Regions from separate parts of the Homo sapiens genome. Here all the other regions are linked to region 5. Evidence: fine-mapped expression QTL. A gene starts in region 5. Each other region holds a variant in brackets. All regions are shown on one strand. Distances are between the middles of the regions.

What was found. PIP is the estimated chance that this variant, and not a neighbour inherited with it, causes the effect.
Region 1: its variant is fine-mapped to the expression of DRAM1 in blood mononuclear cells (TOPMed, PIP above 0.99).
Region 2: its variant is fine-mapped to the expression of DRAM1 in whole blood (TOPMed, PIP above 0.99).
Region 3: its variant is fine-mapped to the expression of DRAM1 in blood mononuclear cells (TOPMed, PIP above 0.99). The same link has a PIP of 0.9 or more in whole blood.
Region 4: its variant is fine-mapped to the expression of DRAM1 in tibial artery (GTEx, PIP 0.98). The same link has a PIP of 0.9 or more in aorta and tibial nerve.
Region 6: its variant is fine-mapped to the expression of DRAM1 in whole blood (TOPMed, PIP above 0.99).

The regions. Positions count from the first base shown.
Region 1 is chr12:101,794,990-101,799,138 of GRCh38, forward strand. It overlaps GNPTAB (N-acetylglucosamine-1-phosphate transferase subunits alpha and beta), which reads right to left. Exons shown (of 21, transcript NM_024312.5): 2 at 1,688-1,773. It also overlaps the pseudogene RNU6-172P. Among named protein-coding and RNA genes, the nearest start is that of GNPTAB, 34 kb to the right of the region's middle. The variant C/T (reference allele first, on the strand shown) is at 2,357.
Region 2 is chr12:101,834,457-101,838,456 of GRCh38, forward strand. It overlaps the pseudogene RNA5SP369. Among named protein-coding and RNA genes, the nearest start is that of GNPTAB, 5.5 kb to the left of the region's middle. The variant T/C (reference allele first, on the strand shown) is at 1,547.
Region 3 is chr12:101,916,241-101,920,240 of GRCh38, forward strand. It overlaps DRAM1 (DNA damage regulated autophagy modulator 1), which reads left to right. Exons shown (of 7, transcript NM_018370.3): 6 at 3,869-3,961. Among named protein-coding and RNA genes, the nearest start is that of DRAM1, 41 kb to the left of the region's middle. The variant A/C (reference allele first, on the strand shown) is at 1,684.
Region 4 is chr12:101,926,109-101,930,181 of GRCh38, forward strand. No RefSeq gene overlaps it. Among named protein-coding and RNA genes, the nearest start is that of DRAM1-AS1, 36 kb to the right of the region's middle. The variant C/G (reference allele first, on the strand shown) is at 2,277.
Region 5 is chr12:101,875,526-101,879,674 of GRCh38, forward strand. It overlaps DRAM1 (DNA damage regulated autophagy modulator 1), which reads left to right and starts at 2,055. Exons shown (of 7, transcript NM_018370.3): 1 at 2,055-2,395. The coding sequence starts at 2,265. RefSeq lists enhancers at 1,459-2,241, 2,032-2,081, 2,242-3,023, 2,662-2,751, 2,892-2,941 and silencers at 1,692-1,851, 2,102-2,441.
Region 6 is chr12:101,850,854-101,855,002 of GRCh38, forward strand. No RefSeq gene overlaps it. Among named protein-coding and RNA genes, the nearest start is that of GNPTAB, 22 kb to the left of the region's middle. RefSeq lists an enhancer at 3,930-4,149 and a cis regulatory region at 3,939-4,149. The variant C/G (reference allele first, on the strand shown) is at 1,795.

The DNA of each region.
Region 1 (4,149 bases), 81 kb before region 5:
GTGCACCATCTGCACGTGGCACAGCATAAGGCACAAATCAATAAATATCTGATTTTAAAATGTTAATCAATTTAGAACTTTCCTTAGGGAAATTAACTTGTTAAAGTGAAAATTATATTTCATTAAAAATCCTTTAATGCAGTAGTTTTCACAGTGGGGGCACCAGACCAGCAACTTTGGTATTACCAGGAAGTTTGGTAGAAGTGCAAATTCTCAGAACCCCTCTGAAACCTATACGCAGAAACTCTGGGCTGGGAAGTAACTGTTATTTTCTTAAGCCCTCCACTGCAAGCTAAAGTTTCAGAACTGCTATATTAAGGAATGGTCCTCAAACTTTTACTGTTTGGTCCCTTAAAATTAAAAAATTAGTATGGACCCCAAAGTGCTTTAGTTTATAAGGTTATAATTATCCACATTTGCCATATTTGAAAATAAAACTGAAACATTTTAAAAATACTTAATTCATTTTAAAATGAGAATAGGCCGAGAGCGGTGATTCATGCCTGTAACCTCAGCACTTTGGAAGGCCGAGGCGGGTGGATCACCTGAGGTCAGGAGTTTGAGACCAGCCTGGACAACATGACGAAATTCCGTCTCTACTAAAAATACAAAAATTAGCTGTGCGTGGTGGTGCATGCCTGTAATCCCAGCTACTTGGGAGGCTGAGGCAGGAGAATCGCTTGAATCCAGGAGGCAGAGGTTGCAGTGAGCCGAAATCGTGCCACTGCGCTCCAGCCTGGGCAAGAGTGCAACTCTGTCTCCAAAAAAAAATAAAAATAAAAATAAAATAAAATAAAATAAACACCTTTTATAATGAAATTACTACATTTTCTAAAATAAACCAAAAAAATAGTGAGAAGACAGAAACAAAAACCAGAAAGGACTTGTGTGATTCATTTTATCTGCAAAAAGGGAAGGAGGGTGTTGAAAAAAATTGTTTCCATTCTGAGGTCTGTCTTGTGAAGAGGAAAAAAAAAATCCCCAAAGACAAGAAATGGTGAAGACTGCGTTCCAGAATGGCGGCACTAAGAAGCTTGGCCTTCCAAGGGAAAGACCCACACTAATGAGGTATGAGGCTATTTGCTCCTCCCTCATAGGTAAGCAGCAAGAGTGACCAATGGAGTGGGGTTCAGCCCCAGTGGTTTACTGGGGAGTGGTCCCATTTCACAGGACGCTGTCAACAGAATTCCGGCCAGGGCTCAGAAACCGCTGTGTAGTAGCCACCTGGTTTCCTCATCCTACAGGGGGATGAAATTCCCTTTACCTCACAGACCTGGGGAGACAGAAAATGCAATCATGCAATTTAAGGTACCCAATAAACTACAAGGTGGGATTACTCTCTGTGAATCAGATTTTTCACCCACAAAATGTGGTGAACACACTTTTCTTCAGATGGACATATTTTCTTTCCTTATTTTAAAAAAATATCTTACGGAATACTTCATGAATTGGTGTGTCACCCTTGCACAGGGGCCACACTAATCTTCTCTGTATCGTTCCAGTTTTTTTTTCCTTTTTTTTAGTATATGTGCTGCTAAAGTGAACACATCAGATGGGCATACTCCTGAGTAAATTAAACCATATCTATAACTCAGAAAGACCCCTTAAACTGTCATATTTACAGGATGGCTATTTCATGACTTACGATTTAGGTCCAAATAATAGATTTCTCCAAAATAGATCTTACCGATTCTGAAAGGACTTTCCAGCAATATTGTCTCTATAGGAATCAAACAAAACATGGTATTGATCTCGGCTCCATTCCAGAACCACCTAGAACAAAGAAAAAGAAACGTTTTCTTCGCATCAAAGACTAAGAGTATATAACTTTCATTTCATTTTAATTTCATTAGAATTGCTAGAGAAATGGGTAAAGAAATCAAAATTCATGTATTCACTTACTGCCTACCACATACATCGTGTTAGATCCAGGTGAATAAGCTACAGTTCCTGAAAAGGACAAACTAAAAGACTTAGTGTCTCACCATGCTTGGAATGGGGTAGCGGAATCAAAGAGGTTTAAAAGGATGTGGTATTTGAAATGGGTCTTGAAGAATGAGTTCACCAGGTAGGGAAAAAAGGACAGGGCCAGCCAGTTGGAAGAGCATGCTTGTAGGCTGAGAAGCAGCAAGGGCAAATTGTTTCAGGGCAACTGTGTGGCTGGCTTTGTCCAGAAGACAGGTAGATAACTGTTGAGAAATGGGTCTAGGAAAGAAAGCTGGGCCCTAAGCGTGACGTGCCTTCTGTGCCTTGGAAGCACTGAAGGATTTTAAGGCAGTTACAGAATCCGTCTAAAGTTTAGGAAAGACTCTTCTCAGAGCATTTACAGACACAAGCAGAAACAGAAGGGACAGGC[C/T]GGGCACGGTGGCTCACGCCTGTAATCCTAGCACTTTGGGAGGCTGAGGAGGGTGGATTCCCTGAGCTCAGGAGTTCGAGACCAGCCTGGGCAACACGGTGAAACCCCGTCTCTACTAAAATACAAAAAATTAGCTGGGCATGGCGGCATGCGCCTGCAGTCCCAGCTACTCGGGAAGTGAGACAGGAGAATTGCTTGAACCTGGGAGGCATAGGTTGCAGTGAGCCAAGATCGCGCCACTGCACTCCAGCCTGGGCAACAGAGCGAGACTTCATCTCAAAAAACCAAAAAACCAAGAAACATAAGGGACTGACAAGATATGGGAGGATAAGGACCTTATTACCTGTGAGGTTTCAGCTAACGACCTTGTTAAACATTTCAGGAGAAAATGGAAAGCTTTAGATAGAAGTTCCCTCATGTTTGCACCCTAAATCTATAAACCTACCCACACATACATCCCATTTTCTTTTTCATTCCTCTTACCACAGAGGAAGTGTCCCCCCACCTTGCAGACATCCAATCTCTATTTGCTCTGGATCTCATCAACTTGTGTGTTCTCAAGACCTTGCCTCTCTTTTCCTTTCAGTAGGATTATTCCCATTGGCACGCAAACATGTTCCCGTACCTTGGGAACACCTTCCCTTCACTCCATATCCATTCCAGTGAGTCCCTCTACCCCACATTTTCTGTCCCTTTCAAGGTCATCTCCTGCTTTCCCACTCACCCTTCAGCTCACTCCAGTATCACTTATGTTTTCACCACTTTAGTGGCCTTACCAAGGCCCCCACATTGTCAAACTCAACGGCATTTTCCTCATCTCTTACTCAAGTATTCATAGCAGTTGCCCAGTTCCTCTTTGTGGAAATGTTTTCTTGGTTTTCCCTCCTGTCGCCCTGGTGGCTCCTTTTCCATCTCCTTTGCCAGCTCATTCCCTTCTATCTAATCTTTCTGTGTGTCCTTTCCTTCTACTCTACATGCCCTCCTTCCTGACCAGGCTTCCTCCAGCATCCTATTCCACTGCCCCTAAGAAGTGGCCCTGCTACATTCAGATGGGCTGTGGGGCCCAGGCATTTAGAATTCATTCCAACTGCAGAAAGGAAAGGGAAAGACATGCCCCACCTTTAAGGAGACATCATGGAAGCTGCACCTACCACTTCTGTTTTCATTATCCAGAACTTACACAAATCTATTATATTATAAAAAGTTAAAATGTATCAAAACTTATACAAACACAGACTGTACATGGTACCGTTTGCAATTGAGAGAGGTAAACAAACATAAAAATGCAGCAATAAATCATAACCGAATAAAATCAACTGTAGTATATACTGTACTAAAATAATTTTGTACCCATCTCCTGTTACTATTGCAGCGAGCTCACATGTTGCGAGTATCTGTAGTGACACTAATTATCTCCACGTGAGCAGTTTGTCTCTCTAGTAAACTGCATGTTGCGGTAAAAAGTGATCTCTCATGTTTCTTACGTATTTTTCATATTTAGTGCAATACCGTAAACTGCGAAGAACATCATGGGACTCTTAGAAAGTGCCACTAGTGCCGATGGAAGTGCTCCCAAGAAGCAGAGGAAAGTCATGTCATTACAAGAAAAAGTTGAATGGTTTGACACGTACCATAGATTGAGGTCTGCAGTGGTGGTTGCTGGCCATTTCAAGACAAAAGAATTTAGCTAAGAATCATTGTTTTTTAAAAAAAAAGGCAATGAAAAATTATGAAGCTGTCACTCCCAGCTAGAAAACTGCATTTTTTGCTAAATGCCTCTTTATCTTGTATTG
Region 2 (4,000 bases), 41 kb before region 5:
CAAGAAAGACATGGTCCCTGCTTTTGTGGGATTTACACTCTGGAGGGGCATATATATATTGGATTAGTATTGTGAGGGGCACTAACCTAGCCTGGGAGGTCAGGGATGGCTTCCTGGAGGAGGTGATACTAAAGATTGAGCTGGAGGACTCAAGATGTGGGGTGGGAAGGGAACTATGTTCCAGGCAAGGCTGGCCACATGGAAGGCCTAATCTAAGGCAAGAAGGGCTGGAGATGCAATGAAATGGAACTAGAGAGTCTGGCAGGATCTTAAAGGCCATAGCAAGAATGAAAGACCTTATCCTAAAGACAATGAAGAATTTTAATAAAGTCTAACAAATGACACAATCAGATAATGAATTTCAAGAGTTATCATAACTGTGGCGTGGAAAATGTATTGGAGGGGGCCTGAGGAGTTGAAATGAGACCAGTGATAGTAGAGTTGCCAGATAAAATACCCAGTTAAATGTGAATTTCAGATAAGCAGCCACATACATTTAGCATAAGCAAATCCCATGCAATACTTAAAAAGCTTTATTTACTTGAAATTCACATATAACTGTGTGTCCTGTATTTTTTATTTTATTTTATTTTTTTGAGATGGAGTTTCGCTCTTACTGCCCAGGCCAGATTGCAATGACGTGATCTTGGCTCACTGTAACCTCTGCCTTTTGGGTTCAAGTGATTCTCATGCCTCAGCCTCCTGAGTAGCTCGTATTACAGGTGCCCACCACCACACTCAGCTAATTTTTTGTATTTTTAGTAGAGACAGGGTTTCACCATGTTGGCCAGGCTGGTCTTGAACTCCTGACCTCAGGTGATCCACCCGCCTCAGCCTCCTAAAGTGTTGGGATTACAGACGTGAGCCACCGTGCCCAGCTGTGTCCTGTATTTTTATTTGCTGCAGATGTTCTGAGCCACTCTTGACCAGGCATGGGAATTCCTGTCCCTTGGCCCAAGCCAGTGCCTAGAAAGTGTATCTGAGTCAGGGATGAAGTATTAGCCTATATATCCCCTTGTCCATAGATGTAAAACAACATTCTGCAGTTAATTTCATTAATATTAAAGCTGATCCTCATCTGCCTGTATCTTGCATGATCTTCTCAATTGGTTCAAAACTCAGGAGACAATGAGAATGTTTTTATGTATTGGACCCTAAAACATTTACCATCTTTGAGTCTCCCTTTGCTTAGCCAGGGTGAAAACTGAACATCCAAAGAAAACAATCTTGCTCAATCAGGGACCTCTTGTCCCAGGCCTACACATATTTTGTGTATAGAAATAGTGTGCTTCAAAAGCCTCACTGTGAGGTCATAAGAAAATTAAAGAGCTTTCAGTAGCTGATTAAAGTTAAAATACCTCCTGTTAAGTGTATATTTAATTAAGTCCTTCCTTTATTAATGATAAGAAGATAAAATGTTCATGTTGTAAATGCTTTCCTTTTAAGCTCTAGGCTTGAAAATCTTGCTTGTTCCCAGGAAACACATTTTGATTTTATTCCCTCCCTTAGTGTATATTCATAGACATGTAAGTTGTAAGTCATCCTA[T/C]TCCTTTCTTTAGTCTAAGAAAGCCAGACAGCCATAAAAAAGAATGAAATTATGTCCTTTGCAGCAACATGAATGGAGCTGGGTGCTATTATCCTAAGTGAACTAACTCAGAAACAGAAAATCAAATGCTGCATGTTCTCATTTATAAGTGGGAGCTAAACAACGGGTACACATGGGCATAAAAATGGCAATATTAATAATTAAAACCAGGGACTCCAAAAAAGGTGACAGTTGGGGGGTGATGAGATTTGAAAAATTACCTGTCAGGTACAGTGTTCACTATTTGGGTAATGGGTACACTAGAAGCTCAATCTTTACTAGTATTCAGTATACCCATTTAACAAACATGCATGTGTATCCCTTCAATCTGGAATAAAATTAAATACATTTTAAAAAGAAAGTGAGGATGGCTTTTAATTTTTGCAAACTAGTGCAAACAAAATTATTAAGTAATTTAACTGTTTCTGATAGAATTTCCTTTTCTTTTTTTTTTTTTTCTTTTTTTTTTTGAGATGGAGTCTCACTCTGATGCCCAGGCAGGAGTGCTTTGGCATGGTCTCTGCTCATTGCAACCTCCGCCTCCTTGGTTCAAGTGACTCTCCTGCCTCAGCTTCCCAAGTGTCTGGGATTACAAGCACCTGCCACCATGCCTGGCTAATTTTTGTATTTTTAGTAGAAATGGGGTTTCACCATGTTGGCCAGGCTGGTCTCAAACTTCTGGCTTCAGGTAATCCGCCTGCCTCGGCCTCCCAAAGTGCTGGGATTACAGGCATGAGCCACCGCAGCCAGCCTCTGACAGAATTTCAAGAGCCAAATCTATGGCCATACCACCCTGAAGGCGCCCAATTTCATCTGATCTCCTTAAAGCTAAGCAGGTTTGGGCCTGGTTAGTACTTGGATGGAAGAATTTCAAGAGCCAAAACATAACATGGCTCACTGTTAACTTTTTTGTGAGTTCAAACACATCACATATATATAAAATACCTAATTTTCACATAAATGTAACCATACTTTGTCCTTTTTTTTTTTTTTTTTTTTTTTTTGAGATGAAGCCTCGCCCTGTTACCCAGGCTGGAGTGCAATGGCACAATCTTGGCTCACTGCAACCTCTACCTCCCACGTTCAAGCAATTCTCCTGCCTCAGCCTCCCAAGTAGCTGAGATTACAGGAATGTGCCACCACGCCCAGTTAATTTAGTATTTTTAGTAGAAATGGGGTTTTACCATGTTAGCCAGGCTGGTCTCAAACTCTCGACCTCAGATGATCCGCCCACCTTGGCCTCCCAAAATCCTAGGATTACAGGCATAAGCCACCGCACCAGGCCCAACCATACTTTATTCTGTTTATGTGATATTTACTTGTGGGTTTTTTTGTACATTTCATCCACTGGAATATAAGCAACATAAAGGCAAGAGACTTACCCATCTTATCCAGAAATGTATCCCTAATCTTAGCATTGTGTCTTGCCAATAGAAACTAATTGATAAAAATTTATTACATGAATTAATATATTTTGCACTGATAAAAGTACCAACCATTGGCTGAGGTGGCTCACACCTGTAATGCCTGCACTTTGGTAGGCCAAGGAGGGTGGATCACTTGAGCCCAGGAGTTCGAAACCAGCCTGGCCAACATGGCGAAACCACATTTCTACTAAAAATACAAAAATTAGCCAGGTGTGATGGTGTATGCTTGTAATCTCAGCTATGTGGGAGACTGAAGCAGGAGAATTGCTTGAGCCTGGGAGGCAGAGATTGCAGCGAGCCGAGATTGCGCCACTGCACTCCAGCCTGGGCGACAGAGAGGGACTCTGTTTCAAAAAAAAAAAAGTTCCAATCACAGAGTTGTATAAAGTTTTGATGAATTGAATTACAGTGTGTTATTAAAGGATATAGAGAATAACCCTATGTTTTGAGGTAGAGCTCATTTGGAAAACTTTCTAGCTTGGGATCATTTTTATATAGTGGAATATACTAATGTCAACTTGGTTTTAAAACCTCTGTTATTTCTATCATTATTGACTCTGGTTGTTTGTTTGCTTCATTTTGTCTACTACTTCTTTGTATCTTTTCTCCCTTTGCCTAAATAACCTTTTCTTTTTTTAGAGACAGGGTCTCTCTGTCACCCTGGCTGGAGTGCAGTGATACCATCTTGGCTTACTGCAGCCTCGACCTCCTGGGCTCAAGCGATCCTCCCACTGCAGCCCCTGGAGTAGCTGGGATTACAGGTGTGCACCAATATGCCTGGCTAATTTTTGTATTTTTTGTAGAGATGGGTTTTCGCCATGTTGTCCAGGCTGGTCTTGAACTCCTGAGCTCAGGCAATCCACCCATCTCGGCCTCCCAGAGTGCTGGGATTACAGGCATGAGCCATTGTGCCCAGCCTAAATAATCTTTTCAAAAACCAGCTTCTGCCAGGCACGGTGGCTCACAATGGAATCTGGAAAAGAAGGCT
Region 3 (4,000 bases), 41 kb after region 5:
TGTGGTTCATGCCTGTAATCCCAGCACTTTGGGAGGCTGAGGCAGGAGGATTGCTTGAGTCCAGGAGATGAAGACCAGTCAGGGTAACACAGTAAGATCCTGCCTCTACAAAAATTAGCCAGACGTTGTGGCATGCGCCTGTAGTCCCAGCTACTTGGGAAGCTGAGGTGGAAGGATCACTTGCACTCCGGTGGGCCTAGACTTCTGGTGGGACTGGGAGTCGTCAGAGTGTAGGGTAGAGTTGTTAGAGTATGGGGTAGACCAGGACATTTTGGACCAAGCATCAGAACACATGGAACCAAATGTTTGACATTGAGATCAACCCATCCTGTTAGATACCTGTAGTAGTGGTTCATCTAGACGCCTTATAGGAGAATCAAGGATGCCCCAGGAAAGAAGAGAGTTAGTGAGAGACAGAGGATTCTTTCCCCCAAGGATCAGGTGGAAGAATACCTCCAGCAAAGGAGAAGTAAAGGGATCATGGACCAGAGAGAAGAACTAGACTTGTGCTGTATGGTAGACCTCATTGATGAGTCCCTACCACATGCAAGACTGTGAAAGATTATAGAGGGCAGGGTGGCCATGGGATAGAGGATCCTGAGGGATTTTATAGTTCAGAGGGGCAAACAGCCAGTTGTCAATGGCTAAATGTAATACTTTGAAGAATAAAAAAATGCTGAACTGGACTTCAGACAACACATTGTGGAAATGCAGAAGCAATAGCAATTAATCCTAACGATGGAATGAGAGGAGATACGATCCCAGAGACTAAAGGACATTTTTCAAAGGCAAGGGAAATGGCTAACTATGGCATATGCAGCTGAATAGCCTTTAGGAATGAAGTCCCTCAATTTGGGCAATAAGGGAGTCAGTGATGTTTGTCAAAAAGTAGTTTCAGTAAAACGCCGAGGTTAGAAGCCAATGGCAAGAAGTTAAATAGTGAGAGGGATGGTTCTTTCATTCAGCTATCAACCAAATGTTTATTGAGTCCTGTTCTGGACTGGAGGTAAGAGGTAAAGGAGGAACACCAGGGTGGCTAGAGGAGACAGCAGGATTTCCCAATATGGAGAACTCTGGCAGGTAATGGAAGCCTGCCAAGACAAGAGAGAGACAGAAGATGGTGAGGAAGAGAATGATCCAGACAGGAGATCAAAAAGTGCTTCTTGGCCGGGTGCGGTGGCTCAGGCCTGTAATTCCAACACTTTGGGAGGCCAAGGCGGGTGGATCACTTGAGGCTAGAGTTCAAAACTAGCCTGGCCAATATGGCGAAACCCTGTCTGTACTAAAAAAAAAAAAAATTTTTGGTGTAGTGGCACACACCTGTAGTCCCAGCTACTTGGGAGGCTGAGGCAGGAGAATTGCTTGTACCCAGGAGTTGGAGAGCTGGAGGCTGCAATGAGCCGAGATCATGCCAATGCACTCCAGCCTGTGCAACAAGAGTGAGACTCCATCTCAAAAAAAAAAAAAAAAGCCTTCTTTAAAATCTAACCTTAAAATGGTCAAATTCGTCAATAGGTTAGACCTAGGCAAAAGGCAGGTTTTTTTCTTTCTTATATATGGGGAATTAGCCCCATCATGCGAAGGGGGTTCAGTTCCTCTTTCCGTTGGAGAGAACCTCTTTCTGAAAGTGAGACCGCATAGCGGAGCAGTTCAGGTGTACTTTACTTTTCAGCCACTCGGGGG[A/C]GACCTTCTATCACAAACCCGCTGCTGGGAAGGGCTTATCGAAGTATATTCCCAGGCAGTTAAAAATCTGTTATATTCCACTTTCTATCTTAAAAATGTGAAAAGCACATGGTTTTCTATTCACTCCATAAATGACTGCGCCACTCTTGCATTTCCTTCTGTTCCTAATATCAAAGGATGTAAAAAAATTTCCCTTTACATTAATTCACTGAATAATCATTTAGGTACTGCCTCAAACTTCTGTGTAGTGCTTTACAGCTTTCACAGCACATTTATATGCAGTGACTTACTTGGTAGGGGGAGGTGAGAATTATAATGTCACTGTCTCATTTCACATAGCAAGGATATTAGGGCTTTGCCTGCATTCAGGACTCTTGGTTCCATGTACTTTCACTAATATCATGCTTAAGAAATTCCCCCCAAAGTTCTGCCTTTATTTTTAGAAGCCATCTTCCTTGTTCAGGGATGATACGGGATGTGGCAGGTCCCCTGGTACTGGTACCAGAAGGAGGAAGCCTCTGTTCTGTATCTCCTACTGTAGGCTGGTCAGGTCCTCCTCGGTGTGACCTAGCATGAAAACAGTGGGTGAGTGTGACCATGACAAGGAGAGTGAAGAGTGACGCTCGGAGGGCTTGGTGTGCCTCCACTCGATCTGTCTGGATGAAAACAGGATCAAAGAAAACAACTGTCACCATGGAGCTGCCCTGTGATCCAGCACATTTACTTACCCTTGTAGCCTACAGCAGTTTGGGGTAGAAGAGCAGTGGGCTCAGCCCTCAACAGCACATGCCAAGGGCAGAGCAGCCCATGTATGCAGCTTCAGAAGGCATGGGGGTGTAGGGAGTTAGGGGTAGTTGCTCATTTCAGCAGAGCAGAAAGTGACGTAGGAAATCAGAGGGGGCACACTGACAGTCCCCAGGCCTCATTTGGCATGTGAGCTAACATCAGAATGCAGACATGCATATTTGACTCAGAGTTTTATTTATTTTTATTTTATTATTATTATTATTATTTTTGAGACAGAGTCTTGCTCTGTCACCCAGGTTGGAGTAGAGTGACGCAATCATGGTTCACTGCAACCTCTATCCCCCAGGCTCAAGTGATCCTCCCAGTTCAGCCTCCCAAGTAGCTGGGACTGCAGGCGCAGGCCACCCCACCCAGCTAATTTTTTTTTGTCTCGTTATGTTGCCCAGGCTGGTCTCAAACTCCTGGGCTCAAGTGATCCTCCTGCCTCAGCCTTCCAAAGTGCTGAGATTACAGGTGTGAGCCATTGCAACAGAGTTTTAAAATTAGTTTCCAGCACTGAAAAATCAGGAGATATCACACACAGACACATCCACAGACACACAGACACACACACGCACACACACACACACACACACGGTTTTGTTTTTTTAAACCCCTTTGAAAGCAACACTAGTGTATTATTTTCCCATGGAATTGAGCTGATGAGGCGTGGGCTCCCTAACTTCCCTCTCTTTTCACAACCATCAGTTTTATTTATTATTGTTAATTTTCTGGCCTCCATAGGCAACTGAGTTTGGAACATCTGATTGAAGCCATTCTCCTTGGCTTCCATTCTCCCATTCTTGCCTCCAAGAAGATATACAGTTAACATGTGGATGTCCATTATTAGCATTTTCTTTGTAGCTGTATTTACCTTGGGATGTTAAGCAGAACTATTTCCTGAATGATCATTTCTATATAAACAGGGAAACACGAAACCTAGGGGACTAGTTGGCCAAGTTCATCTAGATGTGTACACACTTTCTTTGGAACAACTGCGAGAGTGCTTGTTAAGCATAGCCTTACACTTAGGGATTCTCAGCAGAGCGAGACCAAGTCATGCCTTGTATGGAAATTTCTTTCTTCTGTTGAGTCCAAATTTGCTTCCCAGTCTCAGCCATTTTGCAGTCCTTAGTCTACCTTTTGAAGTGACAAACTAAATCTTAAAACAAGAGTTTGTGCGAGCCAGAAAGAACTTTGGAATACCTGCCTTCGCATTCTCAGTGGGCAGGTGCCCTGACACTTAGTAACGTGGTTGTGCTTACCGTATATCCTCAAAGTTCTGACTTATGCTCACTGGACAGCTTTTTCCTTTGGTTGAAACTCCTCATTGTATTTCAGTATGTACATTAAAGTGAGTCTTTTTCGGCTAAATTCTGTTTCTTTATTATTGCATTAGGATTATGTATATCACGTAGTGAGTGCGATCTGTGAATGGACAGTGGCCTTTGGTTTTATTTTCTACTTCCTAACTTTCATCCAAGATTTCCAGGTAGGTGTTTATCAATTCAAATGTTTTAAATTGCGGACA
Region 4 (4,073 bases), 51 kb after region 5:
TTGTGGTTTAAGACGGGGTGGCGTGGGGTGCCTGGAAAGCCTGTGGTTTAGGTAGTTCCTCAGCAAGGAGCACTGCTCTGTGCCCCACCATCCTCAAGGCCAGTTCCACCTCTGGACGACTCAGTTACATGAGCTGATAAAGTCTCTAACTTCAATAAACTGGAGTTAGACTTCAGATGATTTTACCTGTAAGAGTCCTGACTGATAATGGATACACAAGAGTTCCCCTAATATGAAAATACAGTAAACAACTATCATCTAGAGTCATTTTTATTTCATTTTTTTCTTTTGCATTTTTTTTTCAGTACAGACTTGCCTTCACAGGAAAGATCATTTTTATATAAGTGGATTCAGCTGCCCCCACTCACAACCCTCACCCCCTGAACCATTTATTTCAAAAAATTTGAGTAATATTTTCACAATTCAAAACTCAAAACAATATGAAAAGGTATACTGTGAAAAGCCTTTTTGCTTTTCCCTACCTGCATTTACTCAATTCACTCTCTCCTTGCAGATATCCACTTTTTTTTTTTTTTTTTTTTTTTTAACGACAGAGCCTTGCTCTGTCGCCCAGGCTGAAGTGGAGTAGCATGATCTCAGCTCACTGCAACCTATGCCTCCTGGGTTCAAGCAGTTCTCCCTGCCTCAGCTTCCCAAGTAGCTGGTATTACAGGTGCCCACCACCACACCCAGCTAACTTTTGTATTTTAGTTGAGACAGGGTTTCACCATGTTGGTCAACTCCTGACCTCAAGTGATCCGCCTGCCTTGGCCTCCCAAAGTGCTGAGATTACAGGTGTGAGCCACTGTGCTCAGCCTAGGTATCCACTTTTTATCAGATTTTTATGAAAATACAAGCCAAAACAAATATTTTAACGTTTTCCTTTTCATTTTCACCCCAAATTAGTATACTGTAAGAACAGTTTTGAGCCTTACTTTTTTGACATAGCAATGTATCTTGGAGATGTTTCCTTTATCAATACATAGAGATCTCCCTCATTTTTAAGGTTAATTTGCTTTGTTTTATACCTTACAGTATTCCATTGTATGGCTGTGCCATCATTTATTTAGCAAGTTCCCTATCTGATGAGCAATTATGTGGTTTCCAAATTTTTGCAATTACAAGTAGATGACCTTGTACATACATCATATCACACATGTGCAAGGAAATCTCTAGGACAAATTCCAGTGAGTGGGATGTTGGAAACTTCATCTGTTATTTTGCAAATGTTATCTTGCCTTTAGAACTTTTTTACTTGAATATTTTTGTTAGGAACCTCTTTTTCTTTTTTGTTTCTTTCTTTTTTTTTTTTTTTAAAGGCTGGTCAAGTGCAGCAGTGAGAGTGGAGAAGGAAGAAAAAAATCTGTAACTGGGCTGGGCATGGTGGCTCACGCGTGTGATCCCAACATTTTGGGAGGCTGAGGCGGGTAGATCATTTGAGTCTAGGAGTTCAAGACCAGCCTAAGTAACATAGCAAGACCCCATCTCTACAAAAAAATTTAAAAAATTAGCCAAGAATGGTGGTGCAAGCTGTGGTCTCAGCTACTCAGGAGGCAAGAGGGGGGTATCGCTTGAGCCTGGGGAGGCAGAGGTTGCAGTGAGCAGAGATCGTGCCACTGCACTCCAATCTAGGCTATAGAACGAGACTTTGTCTCAAAGAAAACTAAACTAAAATAAATAAATCTGTAACTGGTTGCGATCAATTAGTTGTAAACACCACTGCACTCGGACAAGCCAGGAATCTTTGTGATTACACACATTTTCTTCTAACCTGAGGATGCTGAATATAAGTTCATGTTTCCTTGGTGACTCAGTCATCCATGACTGTAGATCAGGTGCAAATGTGGATTTTGCAGTAGATGGTGTGGGACAGAGGCCTGCCAACTTGGTCACGGGTCTTCTACACACACCTCTTCTGTTCCCTCTTTTATGTAACCACCTACTGCAGGGAATGCAAGGCTGTGTGCTCCTCTTTCTGCTGACAGCAGAACTCACCTATCTTCTGCCTCCTACCCCAACCCGGACATGTCTTCTTTTTATGGGCAAGAGTGTCTCCAGTTCACTTGGGTTTTTCATTATGATCTTGCAAACTTTTGCAATTAGTTGCAAAAGTTTTGTCAATGCCTCTTCCAGTTTGTACTCACTTCCTTTTTGGTATCTCGCTGAAGTCCTGTTACTTGTCTTACACTTCTTCCCTATCTTTTGAGAGGATGTATTTTTGTTGTTGTTGTTGTTGTTTTGTTTGTTTGTTTTAAATTTTGAGATGGAGTCTCGCT[C/G]TGTCACCAGGCTAAAGTGCAGTGGTGCGAGCTTGGCTCACTGCAACTTCGCCTCTCGGGTTCAAGTGATTCTCCTGCCTGAGCCTCCCGAGTAGCTGGGACGACAGGCGTGTGCCACCACGCCCAGCTAAGCTTTATATTTTTAGTAGAGACGGGGTTTCATCATGTTGGCTAGGATGGTCTTGATCTCTTGACCTCATGGTCCGCCCACTTCGGCCTCCCAAAGTGCTAGGATTACAGGCGTGAGCGACCATGCCCAGCTGGAGACGATTGTATTTTTACAGACATCAACAATCAAGCACAATATTCTCTCCTCTCTGGCAAAGTGATCCAGGACAGAACACCAGGGGCAACCCACAGACCTTTTGATCCTCCCTGACCTTGTAGCTTGGTGGTTACTGCAGAATGACTCAATGAGTGGGGGACACCAGCAATTCAGTAGTCAGAGAGAGAGAGAGAGAGAGAGAGGAAAGAAACTTTACCTTTGAGAAACTTAAAAATTGACTTGGAAATAATCAGCTTTATGTTTGCCTAAATGTATCCTTTATGTCATTTGGAAAAAGAAAATATTATTTGGAATTACCTATGGGGAGGCATCATAATTTTTTCAGTACCAGGTATTCAGGGACTTTCACCTAAAAACTAAGGATATTTCTTCATCTGCTTACATGATCACTTATGTTCTGTTAATACTGATTATTTCCTATATCACAGACACTGTAAGGAGGGCGTTTCCTCATAGTTAACCCTATTTTATTCATGAGGAAATTAAGATGTAGCGAGGTTGTCACCAGATACCAAATGATGGGGCTAGAACCAAACCCAGGACTGTGACTCCTACGGTTAACCTTTGCCATGCTGACAGTGTGATTCCCAGTCACTGCCTTAGGAGTATGAATTAATTTGTCAGCTTTTCTAGGGTTATATAATATAAGGCCTTGAGAAATGAAACCCTTAAGCTGGCAAGTTTAGAAAAATGGGTGAAATGTTTGGATTGCCACTTCAAAACGGCAGGTCCTGGTTGAAGTCTGGGCATCTAAGAATTGTGGGGGTGGGAGCAGGTGATAGGAATCAGGAGTAGAAACAGTAAGAGAGGGTTTGTATGATACACCTGGTCTTTGGTGGGAATGGGGATCAGTTCTTGTATGAGTCAGTTCTCACGCTGCTAATAAAGACGTACCAGAGACTGGGTAATTTATAAAGAAAAGAGCTTTAATTGGCTTACAGTTTCACATGGCTAGGGAGGCCTCAGGAAACTTATAATCACGGCGAAAGGGGAAGCAAACACATCCTTCTTCACATGGTGGCAGGAGAGAGAATGAGAGCCGAGCAAAGGGGGGGATGCCCCTTATAAAACCCCCACATCTCGTGTGAACTCAGTATCACAAGAACAGTATGGGGGAAACCGCCCTCATGATTCAATTATCTCCACCTGGGCCCCCCTTGACACGTGGGGATTATTACAATTCAAGATGAGATTTTAGGTGGGGACATAGCCAAGCCATATCAGTTCTCCTGCAACCACCACAGCCTGAGGAGGAGCACTGAAGAGGCCAAGGATTCCACTGCGCAGTGAGACAGGGTGCAGCAGGCTTTCAGTACGATTCAGGCTCTGGTGGCTGTGAGGTGTGGGTTCTTATGACTCTCAACTCCTGGTATCTTTTGCTTCTGGATGGTGCGGTAAGAGGGACTGGGGGTTGTCGTCCGTCTGTCTGGACTTCCCAAAGGAGAAGTCATGGTGAGGCCCAGGGAAAGGACCATCTAGGCTATCACAGGGCTGGGTAAAAGAAGTCCTCA
Region 5 (4,149 bases):
TTGTTTTGTATGGCGGGCACTCACTCCACGGCCACAGTGATCTCTTGAAATACTAGTCTGCCCATGTTCTTACTTTCTCCTTAATACCAAAAATAATCCAAGATTCTCAGCAGGACTCTGGTGACTTTGCCTCTTTGTTTCTCTCTCCATTTGCTGCCTCACACTTATTTAAGTGCTTTCATAGTCCCAGGGAAGCAAGCTCTGTGTATGCATTTCCTCCAGTTGTTTTCTGGGCCTGGAATGCTAATCTTATTTTTCTTTGCCTGGTTAGTAATTACTTCCTTTTGAAAACTCTGATGTCATCTGTCAGAAAACCTCCGTGGTCCTTCCTCTGAGCCCAGGCCCCTGGCCCTCAGCTCTGGGCATGTCTCTACTTTTTAAAATCCTCTCCTTTCCATTTAATAAACCACATAACATAATTTTGTTTTTATTTATTTATATTTTTGAGACAGAGTCTCGTTCTCTCACCCAGGCTGAAATGCAGTGGTGTGATCTCAGCTCACTGAGAAAACCTCCATTTCCCAGGTTCAAGCGATTCTCCTGCCTCAGCCTCCTGAGTAGCTGGGATTACAGGCGTGAGCCATGATGCCTGACTAATTTTTTGTATTTTTAGTAGAGATGGGGTTTCACCATGTTGGCCAGGCTGGTCTCGAACTCCTGACCTCAGGTGATCCACCCACCTTGGCCTCCCAAAGTGCTAGGATTACAGGCATGAGCCACCACGCCTGGCCTAATTTTGTTATTTTGATCTATGAGTGTCCTCGTCCTGAGGGTACTATTACTATTTCATCTTTGTAGCCTAGCATGGCGCCCATGAAATGTGTTTGTGGCTGAAAGGAACCTATCTTTGGTCACCAATGACCCAACAATTTTGGCCACATATGTTGGGCTCAGACTCCCTAAACTATCAAAATCATGTGCTTATATTATAAGTGCCTCCAGAACACAAATCCCTTTCACAGGGCTTGAAATGTATCAAGTCACTATTAATCATCTTAGGCCAAGGCTCCGAGTCTGGGCTACTCCAGAACCTGGAGGGGAGTTTTTTTTGTTTTTTTTTTGTTTGTTTGTTTTTTGAGACAAGGTCTTGCTCTGTCACCCAGGCCGAGTGAAGTGGTGTGATAAAGGCTCACTGCAGCCTCGACCCCCAAGGCTCAAGTGATCATCCCAACTCAGTCTCCCGAGTAACTGGAACCGGCTTTTTTTCTTTTTCATTTTTTTTTTTTTTTTTTGTAGAAGAGGGGTTTCGCTATGTTACCCAGGCTGATCTCTAGTTCTTGGGTTCAAGCGATCCTCCCAACTCGGCCTCCCAAAGTGGTGGCATTCCAGGGGTGATGGCTTTTGGATGCCTCCCAAAGTGATGGCTATTCACGGCGCCCGGCCTGGGAAATCTTATTTCCAGGAAATATTCTCCAGTTGCGCTCTCCTGGAAAGCAGCACAATGGGCCTCCCGGCTCCGTGGGCGCGCAGTCCCACCCGCCTGCCCCGCACCCCACCCGCGTACTCTCCACCCCACCCGTTCCCACCCTGTCTGGGTTTTCGGGTGTTCACCATTGAGGTGGGAGCCACATCTGCGCCCCGTGACCTGGCGAACCTCATTGAACACTTCTGCCCGACCCCCGCAGCAGCAGCGCGACCGGATGGCATGGGTGTCACCACGCGGTGGCCACTCTCACTGCTGCGAAGCGCCGGCGGCGGGACCTCGGAGGGGGCGCCCTCGGGGTGCGAGGCCCGGCACTCCGGAAATCCCCCGGGAGGGAGGGGTTGGGAGAAATAAATCCTTTTCTCCAGAGTTGCGCAAGAGCCAGCGCGGTAGGGCCAGAGTGGGAAGGCCAGAGCGGGCGTCCCCGCCAGTGACCCCACGCCGCCCGTCCGCGCCCAACCCGGCCTCCGCCGAGTGTCCAAACCAAAAGCGAAAGGAACCCGACCCCGCGTCCCCTCCGGCGGCTCCGTAGTCGCGTCCGCTTGGAGCTCGCCGGGCGCCTCCGACCCTGCCGGGCCGCTTTGTGACTTCACTCGTTTCGCAACAAGCCCGGGCAGCCCGCGCCCCACCCACTCTGGCCCGGCAGCCTCGCCGCCCGCAGCCTCGCTCCGCTCCTCGCGCTTCCCCTCCCTCCGGGGCTGGGCCTGCCCCGGCCGTCGCGGAGCCTCCCCTCCCACCGTCCGTGAGTGTACGCGCCCGGCCGCCGCCTCCAGGCAGCCCGGAGCAACCCGGCGCCCGGCCCCGCTGGGCGCAGCACTCCGTCGGCGGCGGCGGCGGCGCGATGCTGTGCTTCCTGAGGGGAATGGCTTTCGTCCCCTTCCTCTTGGTGACCTGGTCGTCAGCCGCCTTCATTATCTCCTACGTGGTCGCCGTGCTCTCCGGGCACGTCAACCCCTTCCTCCCGTATATCAGGTGAGTGGCAGGGTGGGCGTCAGGGCCCCAGGAGCAGGCACAGGGACCACAGGGAGCGCTGCCGACGGGGAGGGAAGGCGTCCGGACCCAGCTTGGGGCGTCGTGTGGTCAGGCAGAGGTGGGAGCAGGAGGAGAGGTGCTCCCGATAGCCTGGGATGTTTAGGGAGGCAGCGGGTGCGGCGCTGAGCACTTCTGCCTGTACCCGGAGCATGGAACAGGGTGGCAGCAAGGAGAGGTTCAGGATAGATGGTAGAGCTTTCATTCTGGGTATGGGACAGAATCTCAGCAGGACGTTCTTAGGCGATATTGAAACAAGATGGGTTCTGATAGATGACATATATTATACAAGAGGTAGATCCAGGTATATGCTAAACAGCCACTATTTTCACTTCTGCATCCCAACATCCCTTGAAGTGGATGTTTGGGCTTATTATTCCCGCAAGCGAGCGGTGGTGTAAAGTTGATGAAATATCATCAACGTGACACTGATGTCACACTAGTTAATGGTAGGAGCAGAATTCACACCCGGCCATGCAGAAAGCAACACTGTGCTGCCCCCAGGTCTCTGGGAGTCTGGCTTAAATTCTCTGGAGCTGCACCAGACACCTCTGGGCACTGTGACCCCAAAGTCCTCAACTTGTCAACAACTTGTGACATCTTTTGTGTTATTTTACCCATTCACTTTTCCTGTGCTTTGGCCTCTACCTTCCTGAGGGGCACTTCAGTGCCAGGGACAGTGGTCTGATCCTCCTATGTGGGTTCCAGCTCAGTGCCTTTCTCATAGTGGCAGGATTCTTTAAACGTTAGAACCATCCATCCTTATCTAAGTAGTGTGACCCCTCTGGACAGGCATTGGTTGGTGAACGGATGATAAGGTTGGTGACACCCAAGGTTTGTTACTGCTATGATAGAAAATGTAGGGCGTCTTCTTCCCTGCAGCCATTCTGTCTGGTGAGCAATGTTCTGTGTTTTTTTGTTTGTTTGTTTGTTTTTTTCCTTTTTTTGGGGGTGGGGGTGAGGAGTGTGGAGAAAGGGGAAACAAAGATCGAGCAAGAGGGGACTAGCATTTTTTAAAATTTTTTTTATTTTTTTGAGACAGAGTCTTGTTCTGTCGCCCAGGCTGGAGTGCAGTGACACAATCTCGGCTCACCGCAACCTCTGCCTCCCGGGTTCAAGCGATTCTCCTGCCTCAGCCTCCCAAGTAGCTGAGATTACAGGCGTGCACCACCACACCTGGCTTAATTTTTTTGTATTTTTAGTAGAGACAGGGTTTCACTATGTTGGTCAGGCTGGTCTCAAATTCCTGACCTCAAGTGATCCTCTTGCCTTGGCCTCCCAAAATGCTAGGATTACAGGTGTGAGCCAGTGTTCCCAGGGAACCAGCATTTACAAGATGCAGGGAATACAGCAATAGGTAGAATAGTGCAAATTTGCAGTAATGATGGTGGTTTTTGCCTATGAAAGGAGATGTTATGTATATCAAGATGTTCTCATCTGGCCTTTCGGTTTTTTCCATTTATTGTTATTATTTTTTATTTTCAGTAGAGACAAAGTCTCACTATATTGCCCAGGCTGGTCTTAAACTCCTGGGCTCAAGCATTCCCCTTGCTTTGGCCTCCCAGAGTGTTGGGATTACAGGCGTGAGCCACCACGCCTGGCCCTCCCATCTGGTATTATGCTTGGAAGAAACCTAGGCTTGGTTTCTCATGGCACATCTCAGGCCCAAGTGCCATCATCTTGCTTCTGAAGCAGGA
Region 6 (4,149 bases), 25 kb before region 5:
GCCCTTTGAGATCAATCTCCTTTTTTCACTCTGAGTCTCTGGAAATCGATTTCTTGTACCTGTAGTCTTATATTCTCTAGAATGTCACATAAATGGAATCATACAGTGAATAGCGTTTGTGCCTGGCTTAGCGTAATGCTTTTATGATACATCCATGTTGTTTCATGTATCGGTAGTTATTTAATCTTTACTGCTGAGTAGTTTCCAGGGTCTGTTTGTACTGATGCAGGGCAGGCGAGCCCAAAAATTGGGTCATAGCCTGGGAGGATTCTTGGCCTCACCCAGGAAAGAATTCAAGGGTGAGCTGGTGGTGTTAAATAGCAACTTTTCTTGAACTGGCAGTGTACAGCAGCAGCAAAGGGACTGCTTGTCGTAGAGCAGGGCCACCCCATAGGCAGTGTGCCCAGAGTAGCAGCTCAGAGGCAGTTCCACAGTCATATTTATATCCACCTTTAATTACTTGCAAATTAAGGGGCAGATTACACAGAAACTTCTCTTTTTTTTCTTCCTCGAGACTGAGTCTAGCTCTGTTGCCCAGGCTGAAGTGCAGTGGCGCTGGCTGGTCCCAGCTACTCAGGAGACTGAGGCAGGAGAATGGCATGAACCCGGGAGGCGGAGCTTGCAGTGAGCGGAGATCCTACCACTGCACTCCAGCCTGGGTGACAGAGCCAGACTCCGTCTCAAAAAAAAAAAAAAAAGAGATTATTCTGAACTTTGGATTGATCTTTTATACATTTCTGAAAATGCAAACAAATAATTAGTTATGTGAAAAAAATTTCCAATTAAGATGTCAGTATTTTATGAAAAACCAGAAGTTATTAGATAAAGGCAGTAAGTGAATCTTTACAACATACTGGATCATGCACAATGTCTTTTTGTCTTAAACTGGAAATAAATCTATATCTGCTAGAAATAATGTAGCCTAAAAAATGCAAATTTGGCCAGGCATGGAGGCTCACACCTGTAATCCCAGCACTTTGTGAGGCCAAGGCAGGTGGATCACCTGAGGTCAGGCGTTCGAGACTAGCCTGGCCAACGCAGTGAAACCCCGTTTCTACTAAAAATACAAAAATTAGCTGGGCGTGGTGGCGTGCTCCTGTAATCCCAGCTACTAGGGAGGCTGAGGCAGGAGAATTGCTTGAACATGGGAGGCAGAGGTTGCAGTGAGCTGAGATCGTACCACTGCACTGCAACCTGGGTTACAGAGCAAGACTCCATCTCAAAAAACAAAAAAAAAGAAAAAAAAGAAAATCTAAAACCAATTAAAACCTTATTTTGAAGAATGACAAATCTAGATCTATTTTTAAAATTTGTGTTTTTGTTTTTGTGGCTTGTTTTGAGACAGGGTCTCACTCTGTCCCCCAGGCTGGGGTGCAGTGGTGTGATCTCAGCTCACTGGAACCTCCGCCTCATAAGCTCCAGTGATCCTCCCATCTCAGCCTCCTAAATAGCTCCTAAATAGCCGTGCTTGGCTAATTTCTTGGTTTGTGTGTGTGTGTGTGTGTGTGTGTGTGTTTGTTTGTTTGTTTTTCTAGAGATGGGGTCTCACCATGTCACCCAGGCTGGTCTGGAACTCTTGGGCTCAAGTGATCTGCCCACCTGGACTTCCCAAAGTGCTGGGTTTATAGGCATGAGCCACCACACCCAGCCCTGAAAAAATGTTTGAAACTCATATATGTTAAGTGTGTGATGTACCTATTATTAACTTAAACACTAAAAGACAAAGACAAACAACACATGATAATGCTTCAGGACTCCAAATCTCAGTGTCAGCTCAGTCCGTGTTGAATAGTC[C/G]TTGAATGCCTCTGGGTATTCCTCTTTCCCCAGTGCACAGCTACCTCAGTAAATGACCACTGGTCTTTTTGATAAAGGACTGAAAATCATTACAGAATATACTCAAGATGATGTTTCAGGGTTCTTTATTCTGGGGACCTGGCCACCTCTTCAGTCCACCAGTACCAGGTCTGAAAACTGACTTAGGTTCAACATCAGGGCAAGAGATCCTGATTTCCTTTTGGGTGACCACCCCGATTTTGTCAAATGCAGTTTATTAACCATTATACACCTATTGCTAAGCCCAGGGACTGACACATAGTAAGTACTCAAAAATATTTGTTGAATGAATGAATGACACTTGGAATTTCAGAGACATAAAAGTTTAGGGTGGTATATAAAACCTCAATCAATCAGTGATGATTGAAGTGTTTATTCTTTCATTAAGTATCCTACTTGACCTACAGGGAAAACATAGAGACCTACAGGGAAACATCAAAAACATAGCCTCTGGAATCAATCAGTGTGACTTGATACCAGGTCTCCTCTTATCATTTCTAAGTCTCAGTTTCCTCATGTGTAAAATGGGTATAATAATAACTTACAAGGCTGCTGTGTGGATCAAATGAGATAATGCACATAAAGATCTCAGCATGGTGCCTGATACATAGCAAGTGTTATAAGGTTAAAATTTTATTTATTCATTTTGTTATTTTATTATTATTAGTTTTTGAGACAGTGTTCCTCTGTCACCCAGGCTGAAGTGCAGTGGCGTGATCTCAGCTCACTGCAACCTCTGCCTCCCAGGTTCAAGTGATTCTCCTGCCTCAGCCTCCTGAGTAGCTGGGATCACAGGCCTGCACCCCTACGCCCAGCTCATTTTTTTTTTTTTTTTTTGTTTAGACAGAGTTTCGCTCTTTGTTGCCCAGGCTGGAGTGCAGTGGTGCGATCTCTGCTCACTGCAACCTCTGTCTCCCGGGTTCAGGCAATTCTCCTCTCTCAGCCTCCCAAGTAGCTGGGATTACAGGCTCCCCACCACCACGCCCAGCTCATTTTTGTATTTTTAGTAGAGGCGGGGTTTCGCCATGCTGGCCAGGCTGGTCTCGAACTCCTGACCTCAGGTGATCCGCCCGCCTTGGCCTCCCAAAGTGCTAGGATTACAGGTAGGAGCCATCACGTCCAGCCAATTTTTTTTGTATTTTTAGTAGAGACAGGTTTTGCCATGTTGGCCCAGCTGGTCTCGAACTCCTGGCCTCAAGTGATCCACCTGCCTCAGCTTCCCAAAATACTGGGATTATAGGTGTGAGCCACCATGCTCAGCATAAGGTTAAAAATTTAAATACCGCAACTCCCATAGGCCACAACTGTTACTCCTTTGTCTCTGTTTATAATTGATCTAAACATTCTCAGTAAACTCCATTTGGTTTGAGGGAGGAGGAAGGCAGAGAAGTAGGATGCCGCAGGAGTTAAACTTGTCAAATAAAGGTCCGTTAGTCTCTGCAAGATGGTTAAGATTATCTCTTGCTGAGTAAATATTAAATAATCTAATATTTAACTCCACATCAGAGCCATTTCATCCTTCTTTCTCTTACTTTTCAAGGTGTCAGGGTTCCATGGGCAAGCCATGTGCACTCTTGGCACATTTACCCATAAATGAGTCTCTCCATAGGCTTTGGAATCCTTGTAGGCTTCAAGGTTTTTGCTCAACTTAGTATTGATACCCTGGTTATGCTCAGCCACTGGGACACTGGGGACATTTGCTGCTAGAGTGTGCAGTATGACTATTGGTCTGTCCTCTTGGTTGGCGTATATTAGTCTGTTCTCGCACTGCTAGTAAAGACATACCTGAGACTGGGTAATTTATAAAGAAAAGAGGTTTAGTTGACTCAGTTCCGCATGGCTGGGAGGCCTCACTATCATGGCGGTAGACGAGTGAGGAGCAAAGGCATGTCTTTCACAGTGGCAGGCAAGAGAGCTTGTGCAGGGAAACTGCCCTTTATAAAACCATCAGATCTTGAGAGACTTATTCACTACCACAGGAATAGTATGGGTGAAAATGCCCTATGATTCAATTATCTCCACCTGTCCCTGCCCTTGACACCTGGGGATTATTACAATTCAAGGTGAGATTTGGGTGAGGACACAGCCAAACCATATCAGTTGTGGTAGGGCCCATTGATCTACAAATGTGACTTGACCTCACTTTTGCATCCCTTCAAGGCTCAGCCACTGCCTCCCTCAGACATGTGGTAGAGGTTATCAGGTCCCTGTCTACCCACTTCCTCATGGTGACCCAATGGCAGGTCACACTCAATTACCTTTCACTTCCCCAAAAAGGATGCTGAAAAGGGGTCTTTTGACTCTCTTCCAAGTCAT